Regions from separate parts of the Homo sapiens genome. Here region 1 is reported to be linked to region 2. Evidence: microRNA targets listed by miRTarBase, many of them from high-throughput screens and not tested one by one. Region 2 holds a microRNA gene; the other region holds the end of a gene's coding sequence.
The links. The annotated mature microRNA hsa-miR-29c-3p reads UAGCACCAUUUGAAAUCGGUUA and lies in region 2 at 3,307-3,328, shown strand. An mRNA with a match to its seed (bases 2 to 7 or 8) in the 3' UTR can be bound and repressed. Matches are read on the target gene's strand: a 7mer-m8 pairs with bases 2 to 8, a 7mer-A1 pairs with bases 2 to 7 and ends in A, and an 8mer does both.

Region 1: the mRNA of COL4A2 is a reported target of hsa-miR-29c-3p. Seed matches in the 3' UTR shown: 7mer-m8 at 1,075-1,081.

The regions. Positions count from the first base shown.
Region 1 is chr13:110,511,145-110,516,521 of GRCh38, forward strand. It overlaps COL4A2 (collagen type IV alpha 2 chain), which reads left to right. Exons shown (of 48, transcript NM_001846.4): 48 at 790-2,065. The coding sequence ends at 1,047. Among named protein-coding and RNA genes, the nearest start is that of COL4A2-AS1, 5.7 kb to the left of the region's middle. RefSeq lists enhancers at 772-1,400, 3,126-3,625.
Region 2 is chr1:207,799,816-207,805,192 of GRCh38, reverse strand. It overlaps MIR29C (microRNA 29c), which reads left to right and starts at 3,254; the gene lies at 3,254-3,341. MIR29B2CHG (MIR29B2 and MIR29C host gene) reads left to right here. Exons shown (of 6, transcript NR_135299.1): 6 at 2,531-3,675. MIR29B2 (microRNA 29b-2) reads left to right here and starts at 2,670; the gene lies at 2,670-2,750.

The DNA.
Region 1 (5,377 bases), not on the chromosome of region 2:
TTATACACCAACTCTGGGATCCAGGAGGCCTGCCGTGCGCTTCCATAAAGGCTAAACATGTTGATGCAACAGAAAGTAGAACTTTAAAATGAAAAAAAAAAAAAGGCTTCCTTGAAGACCTCAGCCATCTCCCAGCCAGCCTCAGAATCAACTATTTAACAACCTCTGATTGAAAAAATATATATTTAATTACACAAGTAATACATATTTATTGTGAAAAATCAGCAAGTACAGATTTAAAAAAAAAAATAAAACCACTCATCTTTCCTCCCTGATCATCAGCATTTTCAGAGAAGGAGCTGGGAGGCCTGGCTGGGTGATTATTTTTAACTTATTAGCCTCAGATGCCAGCCTACATCTTAATTTTATTTTTTTCTTCTAAAAAGAGTAAACATTGTGTTATCTCTTCTGCCAGGTATTTTTCTTTGAATGGATGATTAGGCAGATGTTTTGTTTTGTTACTGAAATGCAGTGGATTATATCTACCGCTCGTATCTGCTGTCACGGCTCTAGTTCTTACCGAACGGCCAGCCTGGCTGTGAATTAGTGTCCATGCAGCTGCCTCTGCAGCACGTCCTGGTGCCTGGGGCTGCCTCCTGCAGGGGGCCCATGTGTATTTCACCAGCCCCCTCTTGCTGAAGGCGCATTCGCGAGGATGCCTCATGTCCGTATTGACACTCATGGTTTGCTGTTCAGTAAAAACAAATGCACAGAAGAGGGCTATGCCCTGACCCCGTGCCACCTGCAGGCTGTGATTCCTAACCCTGTCCTGCCCCCCTCTCTGTGCAGCACACGGCGGCGGGAGACGAAGGCGGTGGCCAATCACTGGTGTCACCGGGCAGCTGTCTAGAGGACTTCCGCGCCACACCATTCATCGAATGCAATGGAGGCCGCGGCACCTGCCACTACTACGCCAACAAGTACAGCTTCTGGCTGACCACCATTCCCGAGCAGAGCTTCCAGGGCTCGCCCTCCGCCGACACGCTCAAGGCCGGCCTCATCCGCACACACATCAGCCGCTGCCAGGTGTGCATGAAGAACCTGTGAGCCGGCGCGTGCCAGGAAGGGCCATTTTGGTGCTTATTCTTAACTTATTACCTCAGGTGCCAACCCAAAAATTGGTTTTATTTTTTTCTTAAAAAAAAAAAAGTCTACCAAAGGAATTTGCATCCAGCAGCAGCACTTAGACCTGCCAGCCACTGTCACCGAGCGGGTGCAAGCACTCGGGGTCCCTGGAGGGCAAGCCCTGCCCACAGAAAGCCAGGAGCAGCCCTGGCCCCCATCAGCCCTGCTAGACGCACCGCCTGAAGGCACAGCTAACCACTTCGCACACACCCATGTAACCACTGCACTTTCCAATGCCACAGACAACTCACATTGTTCAACTCCCTTCTCGGGGTGGGACAGACGAGACAACAGCACACAGGCAGCCAGCCGTGGCCAGAGGCTCGAGGGGCTCAGGGCCTCAGGCACCCGTCCCCACACGAGGGCCCCGTGGGTGGGCCTGGCCCTGCTTTCTACGCCAATGTTATGCCAGCTCCATGTTCTCCCAAATACCGTTGATGTGAATTATTTTAAAGGCAAAACCGTGCTCTTTATTTTAAAAAACACTGATAATCACACTGCGGTAGGTCATTCTTTTGCCACATCCCTATAGACCACTGGGTTTGGCAAAACTCAGGCAGAAGTGGAGACCTTTCTAGACATCATTGTCAGCCTTGCTACTTGAAGGTACACCCCATAGGGTCGGAGGTGCTGTCCCCACTGCCCCACGTTGTCCCTGAGATTTAACCCCTCCACTGCTGGGGGTGAGCTGTACTCTTCTGACTGCCCCCTCCTGTGTAACGACTACAAAATAAAACTTGGTTCTGAATATTTTTAAACCCCGAGTTGTTGACCGCCTTAATCTCGTGTCCATAGAGCAAAACGTCTGCTCAGATGGATGCGAGGCACAGCGTCCGCCCACGCTGCTGTTTTTAATCCATCTCAGTAGAGTTGAACCCATTCGTGGTATTACAGCCATTTCTCGGGGAATGTGTTTGTTTATAACTCACTAATGCTTACAGAAAACACCCCAACCAGGCCATGCGTGCTGGCTCACGCCTGTAATCCCAACACTTTGGGAGGCCGAGGCAGCTGGATCACCTGAGGTCAGGAGTTCGAGACCAGCCTGGCCAACATGGTGAAACCCCGTCTCTACTAAAAACATAAAAATTTTCCGGTGATTGTAATCTCAGCTACTCGGGAGGCTGAGGCAGGAGAATCACTTGAACCCGGGAGGCAGAGGTTGCGGTGAGCTGAGATCGTGCCACTGCACTCCAGCCTGGGCAACAAAAGTGAAACTCCATCTAAAAAAAAAAAAAAAAAAAAGAAAAGAAAACACCTGAACCAGCACTTGTGGGAATTTGGAGAAAGGGTACTTCACAAATGTAAGTCATTCAATTTGTTCCAACATAGGCTGGGTGCAGTGTCTCACATCTGTAATCCCAACACTTTGGGAGGCTGAGGTGGGAGGATCACTTGAGCCTAGGAGTTTGAGACCAGCCTGGACGATATAGTGAGATCCATGTCTACAAAAAAAAAAAGATCCCACATAACTTCCCAAGTCAAAGCTCAGTATTTCAAAGAAACAATCTCCGAGATTCAACTCACAGTTTATTTTGACCCTCTGAAATGCAATCTCAAATTGAAGTTTTCCTAAGAAAAAGGTTCACATTATGAAATAAGTATCCTACCTTATAATGTTATTTGAAATAGATACGCAGCCGCCCTGGCGCGTGTTCCCCCAGAAGCTGGCTGAGGCCACGACCTCTACACAGCACGGCTATATGGGAAGGCGATATCAGGAAGCCTGAGTGGGACCTGGAGGGGGTGATACCAGGAAGAAGAAAAGCCAACTCAAGGACATGGGACTAAGGGGGTTACCACTGTGGGCTGTTTAGGCTTGATCCTGCTGGGGATCCACCAAGGAAGGATCCTCAGATGGTCCAGCCATGGCTTGGAAAGGGAAGTGTTCTCCATCAGCTGCGGTCTCGACTGGTCAGGGGTTGCCTGAGGGTGCTAATTCCCTCACACTCCCAGGTGCACCACACACCAGCATGGCTGAGTGGGCTCCTGCCAGATGCCAGGTGGAGGTGGTAGAGAACCAGGCAGAGCTGAGACACGGTGTGTCAGGCCACACCTGCTCATGGCCAGTCACCACAGCAATAGCTGTAGCAAAACAGTGGGCCCAGAGCGTGTGAGACGGGGATCAAGAGACCAGAGCTCGCAACCACAGCAACTCTAGAAGCTGGGAAGCAACAATTCATTCTAGACTCCACCCCTACTGCCAAGGAGGCAACCGCAAAGTGTGCTGCAGTCCTGAAGACCCCTGCTCGACTTGAGGTAGGCTTGATACCTTGTGTGTGGATCACACCTCAGCGTCAGTGCCCAGTGTTAAACATAAAAGAAATGTTTCACCCTAGACCTAAAATAAATGAGAAGACAAAGATCCTCAACAAATAATTGGTTTCCAAAATGTGGATCATAAAATATAAACCAATCACAATTCATAACCCTGACATCTGTGCCAGGGAGCCCACGATCCCGCTGAAGTATAGTGAGTGGAGATGCCTCATCTGGAATCGAACCGCTGAACATCCTGCACCTTGAAAATCAGAGCTCTGTCCTTCATGGATCCTGCATGTTGCAAAAGACAGATTTTTTCCAGGCTAGTTTCTTGGTGCCAGGAATAACTGCTCCCTGAGAGCTGAGTGTGCTTGAACCACCCTCTAATGATGTGCCACATTTTCCAGAGGGTGGGTGCCCCAAAGTCAGAATCACTTCCATCTCCCAGCTGCTTCAGACAGTGACTTTCAGCACCCCTGGCAGAGACGCTGCTGGAATGCGCATGAAGATGCGTCTGCAGCCATCCTGACTGGGTAGGGGCGCCCAGGAAGACTCACAAGCCCTGGAGAGCACATCAGCCTTTAAACCACCCAAGAAGAGCACGTTGGCAAGGACGGCCTGGATGGGTTGCTTCAGTGGGCTGGGCCTCCGGTAAAATGAATGAAAGTACCTGTGCATCAGAGTGACATCAGGAGAATGAAATCAGTCACTACACGTGAACGTGCCCAAAGCCGCAGGTATGTATGCACTCGTACGTGTCCAGGACCTAAGAGGAAGGAGGTAGAGAATCGCTGCAACCTGGGAGTTCTAAATGTGTTGAGGTTGAGGACTGTGATTTAAAATGCACAGTGCAGGGAAGGGAGGAGAATGATTTGGAAAGTAAATTCCATGACATGCTAGACAAGGAAGGGAAGGGTAACACTGAGCTGATCTTAAAGTGACAGACCAAACCCAAGCAGATGTCTTGAAGGCAACGAGGGAACAGCATCCTCACCTCCCACACGTGGTACAGCAAGAGCCTCACTCTGCAGACTCAGGAAGGCACCAAGCTACAAACATCTATGAGCTATTTGTATTCATACAGCATAAGTTCAGCTCAGCCAATAAAATGTAAGGCTGTCCTTCCCCCTGAGAAATACTCAGTGCTTCTGGTTACACCTGGAGGTGGCTTTTCCTTGAGGCTGCCTTCCTGGAAAAGGGCCATCCACTTATTTAAAAAGAAAAAACCACAGAAGTTTCAGGAGCTCATTGAAGCCGGTAGGGGAAACGTGCTATTAATAATATAAGTAATTTGGAAATGAGTGGCGTCTCTAAGAACAAAGGCAAAGAGAACTGCACACAGCATTGTACTCTAGTGGATAAAGTTGTTTCTTGCAGGAGTACCAGTGAACAGTGCTGACACTATATTCATGCTAAAACTGAACCATTGGTTGGGCGCGGTGGCTCACGCCTGTAATCCCACAACAGAGCGAGACTCTGTCTCAAAAAAAAAAAAAAAAAAAAAAAAAAGAACCATTAATTAAGCGGATGGTCGATGGTGGGAGCCATGTTTCTCATTGTTGAAGGAGAATTTACAGCAAAGTGGGGAAATGACACAATGGTTAGAGTCCGAGATATCAGTAGGAACTCGGGTTTAACCTATTATAGACACCTATAGTCACATAAAGAAATATCTGTAGGGGTTAGTACAGACACATGTATTTCTTCACTCTGTCAGCTGAGAGGGCCTCAGAGAAGCAGCCCTGCAGGAGCAGTGAGCACACCTGGCCCCAGATCTGGGATTCTAACACTTCTCCAATAAAAGGACCCGAGGCTCCTCGGGGAGATGGCTGATTCCGAGACGGGGGCAGGAAATATAGACCATGAGACTGGAACATCTTGTAGTGCCAGAAAGTAAGGAAGTGCTCAAATAAAACCCCAAATGGAGACATGTGGAAGGGACACGGGAGCCATCTGAAAGAGCTCCCAAGATGAAGCCATCTGAATAAGA
Region 2 (5,377 bases):
GGTAGAATGTGGGGACAGAAGTGGACCAGGCTAGAGTATAGCTCCCACACCTTTCCCATGCGTGGCAGCACTCGTAAGACTGACATGCCCACCCTTCTGGATGGGTGGTTTTCCTCCCCAGACAGCCCTGCCAACCCTTTCACCTTCAGCCAGTTTGTTTGGAGTCATTAGGCTGAGGTGGGTAAAACCCATCACCCTCCTTGGATGGCAGAGCTCTCAGCAGGCTGGGATTTTCATGGGCTGCCTTCTTACAGGTCTAGGTGGCCTTCAGGCATGGTGCCAGGGAAAGCAAGCCCCTTCCAGCCCTTACCAAACTAACTGGCTGCTTCCTAGTAGGGAACAGCCACCAGCTTGTTTCAGCGAAGAGTCATTGCTCAGCTGATTCTGAGAGGAGAAAACTGGTTCTGTTGGGAGGGCTGAGACCTGAAGGACCCCTTTTATCCAGTGGAATTGGAAAGGCAAAGGATTTCAATACTAACATGATTTTTTTCTCCACTTCTTTTAGAGTGTTTAATTAAAGTGATGCATTGTTAATGGCTTCTTATCTCTTCTTCCAGAGAGTAAAGAGTTAAATTTTAGAATCCAGGAGTGGGGACCCAGACTGTGGCTTCTGTTAACTCCCTCAGTGGCAGTGGCGTCCTGCTATGCACAGCCCCTCTGCTGTACTCCGAATGGTCCCTTACGGGTAGCAGGAGAGACATTAAATAATCACACTGATGACCAAGTGAGATAAGTGGTTTTTGAAGGAAAGAACTTGAGGCTGGCGAGGACCACTTAACCTTCTAGCAAGGGCTGGACTCAGGGAGGCTTTCCTGAGCTGCGGGGAGGATGACAGGTTCCCTGGAGTGGTGGTGGGTGGGGGCGGGGCTGAGGGGTGGTAGCCAAGGGAGGGTGAAGGAGAGTATTCCAGAAGAGACAACAGCTTAGGCAGGCAGGACCTCGCCATGGAGGAAGGTGCTTTCTGATCACTGCGGGACACCTGTGTGATAGCTCATAGGGAGGGGGTACTGGTAACTAAAAGTTGATAAGGAAGAGTGGCTAAAATGAAAAGCAGAAAAGTGAGAATCTCATCAAATCCCCTCATTTGACAGGATTTGGACTCCCAGTAGTAACTGTCCTTAAACACTCACTCCTGACCTTACAACCCTGGCTGTTACCTGGTTAACAAGCCCCAGGTGTTGGCTACAGGTGTCATCACTGAGAGCCCTTGTGTGCAGATCTGCCCCAGCTCTCCCACCTGTGACTGAGGCTAGCAAGTCCCCCGTGGGCTGTAGAGCCTAGCGCTGGTGTCAGAATCGCTTGTTGCAGGTTCATCTTCAGTGTCTTTCCCACAGCCACATGCTGGGGAAAGACGGCAAAGGCGCTAGAGGAGCAGGAGAACAAAGCAAGCTGCCCCAGACCACCCGGCTTTCGCAGAACCCAGATGATGCTCCTGTCTCCCCCTAAGTATAACGTGTTATGTAGTCAGTATGATCCCATTCAGTGCAGAAGTATCGCCTAGGAATTTCCTGCCCCACCCACCCTGTTTTGTTCTTAATGAAGTTCAAGAACAAAATGAGATGATAGTCAAGTTATGGAGCAGGCTGCAGTGGATACAAGGGCAGAAACACAGTCTTTGGAGTTAGACCTGGGATCTGCATTGATTGGTTGTGTGACTGCAGACAAGTTATTTAGCCTCATTAAGGATGAATTTCTTCGCAAAAATTGGAATAATACCTGCCCCATACGACTGTTGTGAGAATTAAACACCGCAACTTTTGATGTTCAAATTCTATTTCTTCTCCTTCTAGCAACACATACTGTTAGTGCCAGGAACCATAAAAATTATAAGGCTGTATCTAGAGGCCTGAAAGGAAGCTAAAATATACAGTGTCTACTCTGTCTCTTTTCTCTTGGTTATGGTATCAGAGGAAATACACATATTTTCTTAGCTTCAAACCACCAAAAAAGATGATGCAGTAAGGAGATGGGAAATCTAATTTGGAATACAGTGTGCAAATCTTATTTTCAAGCAGACTTTGAAAATAAAACTCAATTCTTACGTTAGAGGATTATCTGCTTAATACAATTATAGGGTACCAGTTTTTGAAGTCACATCGGGGTTAAATAAGATTGCAGGTTCATGGGGTCATATTTGAATGTTCTGATACTTACATATGGGGTGGGAAGGAGGAATGCATGCTTTTCTCAAGTTAAGACACATAAAAGAGTTGTCCTGGCCCAGGTGAGACTCGCCTTTGTGTAGCAGCTGGAGCTTCATTCCACAGGCAGATAGGGTGCTTGTGTCCTGATGAAGTAAGAGAATATATCTGGAAACACTTTGTGTACTGTGAAATACTATACAAATGCAGGGCAGTACAAATGTAAATATTAATGTATTTTAGTAATAATTTTAGCTTTTATTTCATCATATATAATAATTTGTAGTGACTGGTGTGAAGTTAAATAGAATTAACCTAGAATTAATGAGTTTTGTATTGCTCTCATCTATTTGAAGCATCAGCTGTGCCTTTCATGTTGCCTTGTGCAGCCCTGTGTAACCTCCTCTGTGCCTTTCCCATGGAGCACTGTGTCATATCACAAGTAGAACTACAAGAAGATATTTCTCCTCAGGGCAGAGGCTGGGTCTTCCGATTGAATCTCCCTTCTTTCTTCATTGAGATCCTCTTCTTCTGGAAGCTGGTTTCACATGGTGGCTTAGATTTTTCCATCTTTGTATCTAGCACCATTTGAAATCAGTGTTTTAGGAGTAAGAATTGCAGCACAGCCAAGGGTGGACTGCAGAGGAACTGCTGCTCATGGAACTGGCTCCTCTCCTCTTGCCACTTGAGTCTGTTCGAGAAGTCCAGGGAAGAACTTGAAGAGCAAAATACACTCTTGAGTTTGTTGGGTTTTGGGAGAGGTGACAGTAGAGAAGGGGGTTGTGTTTAAAATAAACACAGTGGCTTGAGCAGGGGCAGAGGTTGTGATGCTATTTCTGTTGACTCCTAGCAGCCATCACCAGCATGAATGTGTTCGTAGGGCCTTTGAGTGTGGCGATTGTCATATTCTGTTGGATAACAATGTATTGGGTGTCGATTGTCATGGGGCAGGGGAGAGGGCAGTACACCTGGAGGACCATTTTGTCCACATCGACACCATCAGTCTGCTCTTAGAGGATGCCCTGGAGTATTCGGCGTTGATTGCGGGGCACCCGAAATCAGACTTGCCACCTGGACTGTCGAGGTGCAGACCCTGGGAGCACCACTGGCCCATCTCTTACACAGGCTGACCGATTTCTCCTGGTGTTCAGAGTCTGTTTTTGTCTAGCACCATTTGAAATCGGTTATGATGTAGGGGGAAAAGCAGCAGCCTCGAAGCCTCATGCCAACTCTGGGCAGCAGCAGCCTGTGGTTTCCTGGAAGATGGATGGGCAGAGAATAGGGAAGGAAGATCATGCTTTTCCCTACTAACTTCTGTAACTGCATGTATGATACATTATTGCAGAGGTAAGAGATAGTTTAATGGATTTTTAAAAACAAATTACTATAATTTATCTGATGTTCTCTAGTTGCATTTTGCTGAAATGTAGTGCTGTTCTAAATTCTGTAAATTGATTGCTGTTGAATTATCTTTCTGTTGAGAAGAGTCTATTCATGCATCCTGACCTTAATAAATACTATGTTCAGTTTATCATGTCTGTGTTTTTCATCTATTATTTCCCATTCATAATTCTGTGATGATAAGAAGTGGGTCCTGAAAAATTAATTGGCTGTGCAGATCTTGCCTACTTCATAAAGAATTTGAAGTAGGTTACAGCCAGCCAGACATTAAAAATGAAGCCCATTAAGAGAAGAATGAAATTCTATGAGCCAAGAAATAAAATGAGAGAAAAGATTAGGGAAGAGAAGAAATGTTGAAGATCAAGGCTGAGGGATGCTCCCTACTGAATGGGAAAACTCCTTAGTTCCACATGGGCTGTAGACACAGCCCTTCTGCCAGCAACTGTTCCTGCAAGGAACTGGTGCTCAACTAAACATACTGTCACATGGTTCCTTGAAGGGGCACAGCACTGATTTCACTTGCATTATAAAAGATTGAGTGGTGCTTTTGACTATTAGTTTATGTCAACACTTCAAAACAAGATGAGCCAGTTTTTTTTTGTTTTTTTTTTTTGTTTGTTTGTTTGTTTTAGACGGAGTCTCACCCTGTCACCCAGGCTGGAGTGCAATGGCACTGTCCCCGCTCACTGCAACCTCCGCCTCCCGGGTTCAAGCAATTCTGCCTCAGCCTTCCGAGTAGCTGGGATTACAGGCGTGGCACCTCCACGCCCAGCTAATTTCTGTATTTTGTAGTAGAGACGGGGTTTCATCATGTTGGCCAGGCTTGTCTCGAACTGCTGACCCCGTGATCCACCCACCTCAGCCTCCCAAAGTGCTGGGATTACAGGCGTGAACCACCTCGCCTGGCCCAGTGAGCCAGTTTTGTAAAGCTATTCAGAGATTAGCCAGATTTGATTTGATAGGGGATCAAGCTTGTAGGATCTTCAGGAAGGCGGGCTGTGGCCCCTTGATCAGGCTTTTTGCACAGGAGGTGCATGACTATGAACTACCCTCAGTAGAACTCTTTTAAGCCAGTGGCTTGCAATAAATGATGGCAAATCAGCCACCTAGGAAGCCATTTCTAAGCCCAACCCCCTGCCACAGTCTTCCTCTAGATGGCTGCCCTGCCCAGTGGGCTGAGAGTGGGGGGCGGAAGTAGCATTTGCTGGGAAGACTTGCCAGTACATATGTTGCACCCCCTCACTGCAGCTGCAGTGCTATTTCAGGCTGTTGATGGAAGAACCCATGTTCTAATCCCCAGGATGTGGTGGGAAGACCCTAAGTGGTGGTGTTAGTTAAGACCCTAAGTTATATTGTTTTGTTCACTTCCCACTGAGATAGGCTACAATAGTATTAAATACCTATAGGTCAGACATTTTTGGGGTCTGTTGTACTACCTACCAATTAAACAGTTTTTGATCCGCCCACCACGCTCAAAGCTCCAGCCTAGGTGTTGCAAATACAGACGACAGATTTTTGCTCTCAGGAGGCCCTGATTCCAGTCCTCAAACGAGTAAGTGTGAAATTGAGTGCAGCATTAAAGCACAAAAACAATGATTTGAGACGTCTTTTCTATAAAAGAAGTTTATAGCACTCTCATTGAATGCTTAAATAGTGCCACACTGCTAAGTCGTGAGAAGCAAAATGTAACTGCGGTGCCTCAAACAGGATTATTTTGTTTTATTCATTTGGATGCGGACAGCTCTTTATCTAAAATTGCCATTCTGAGGTGGTTTTGCACAATAAATTGGTAATTATGTAGACTGTTTCTTCCAGAGACAGCATCTTGAATCGGG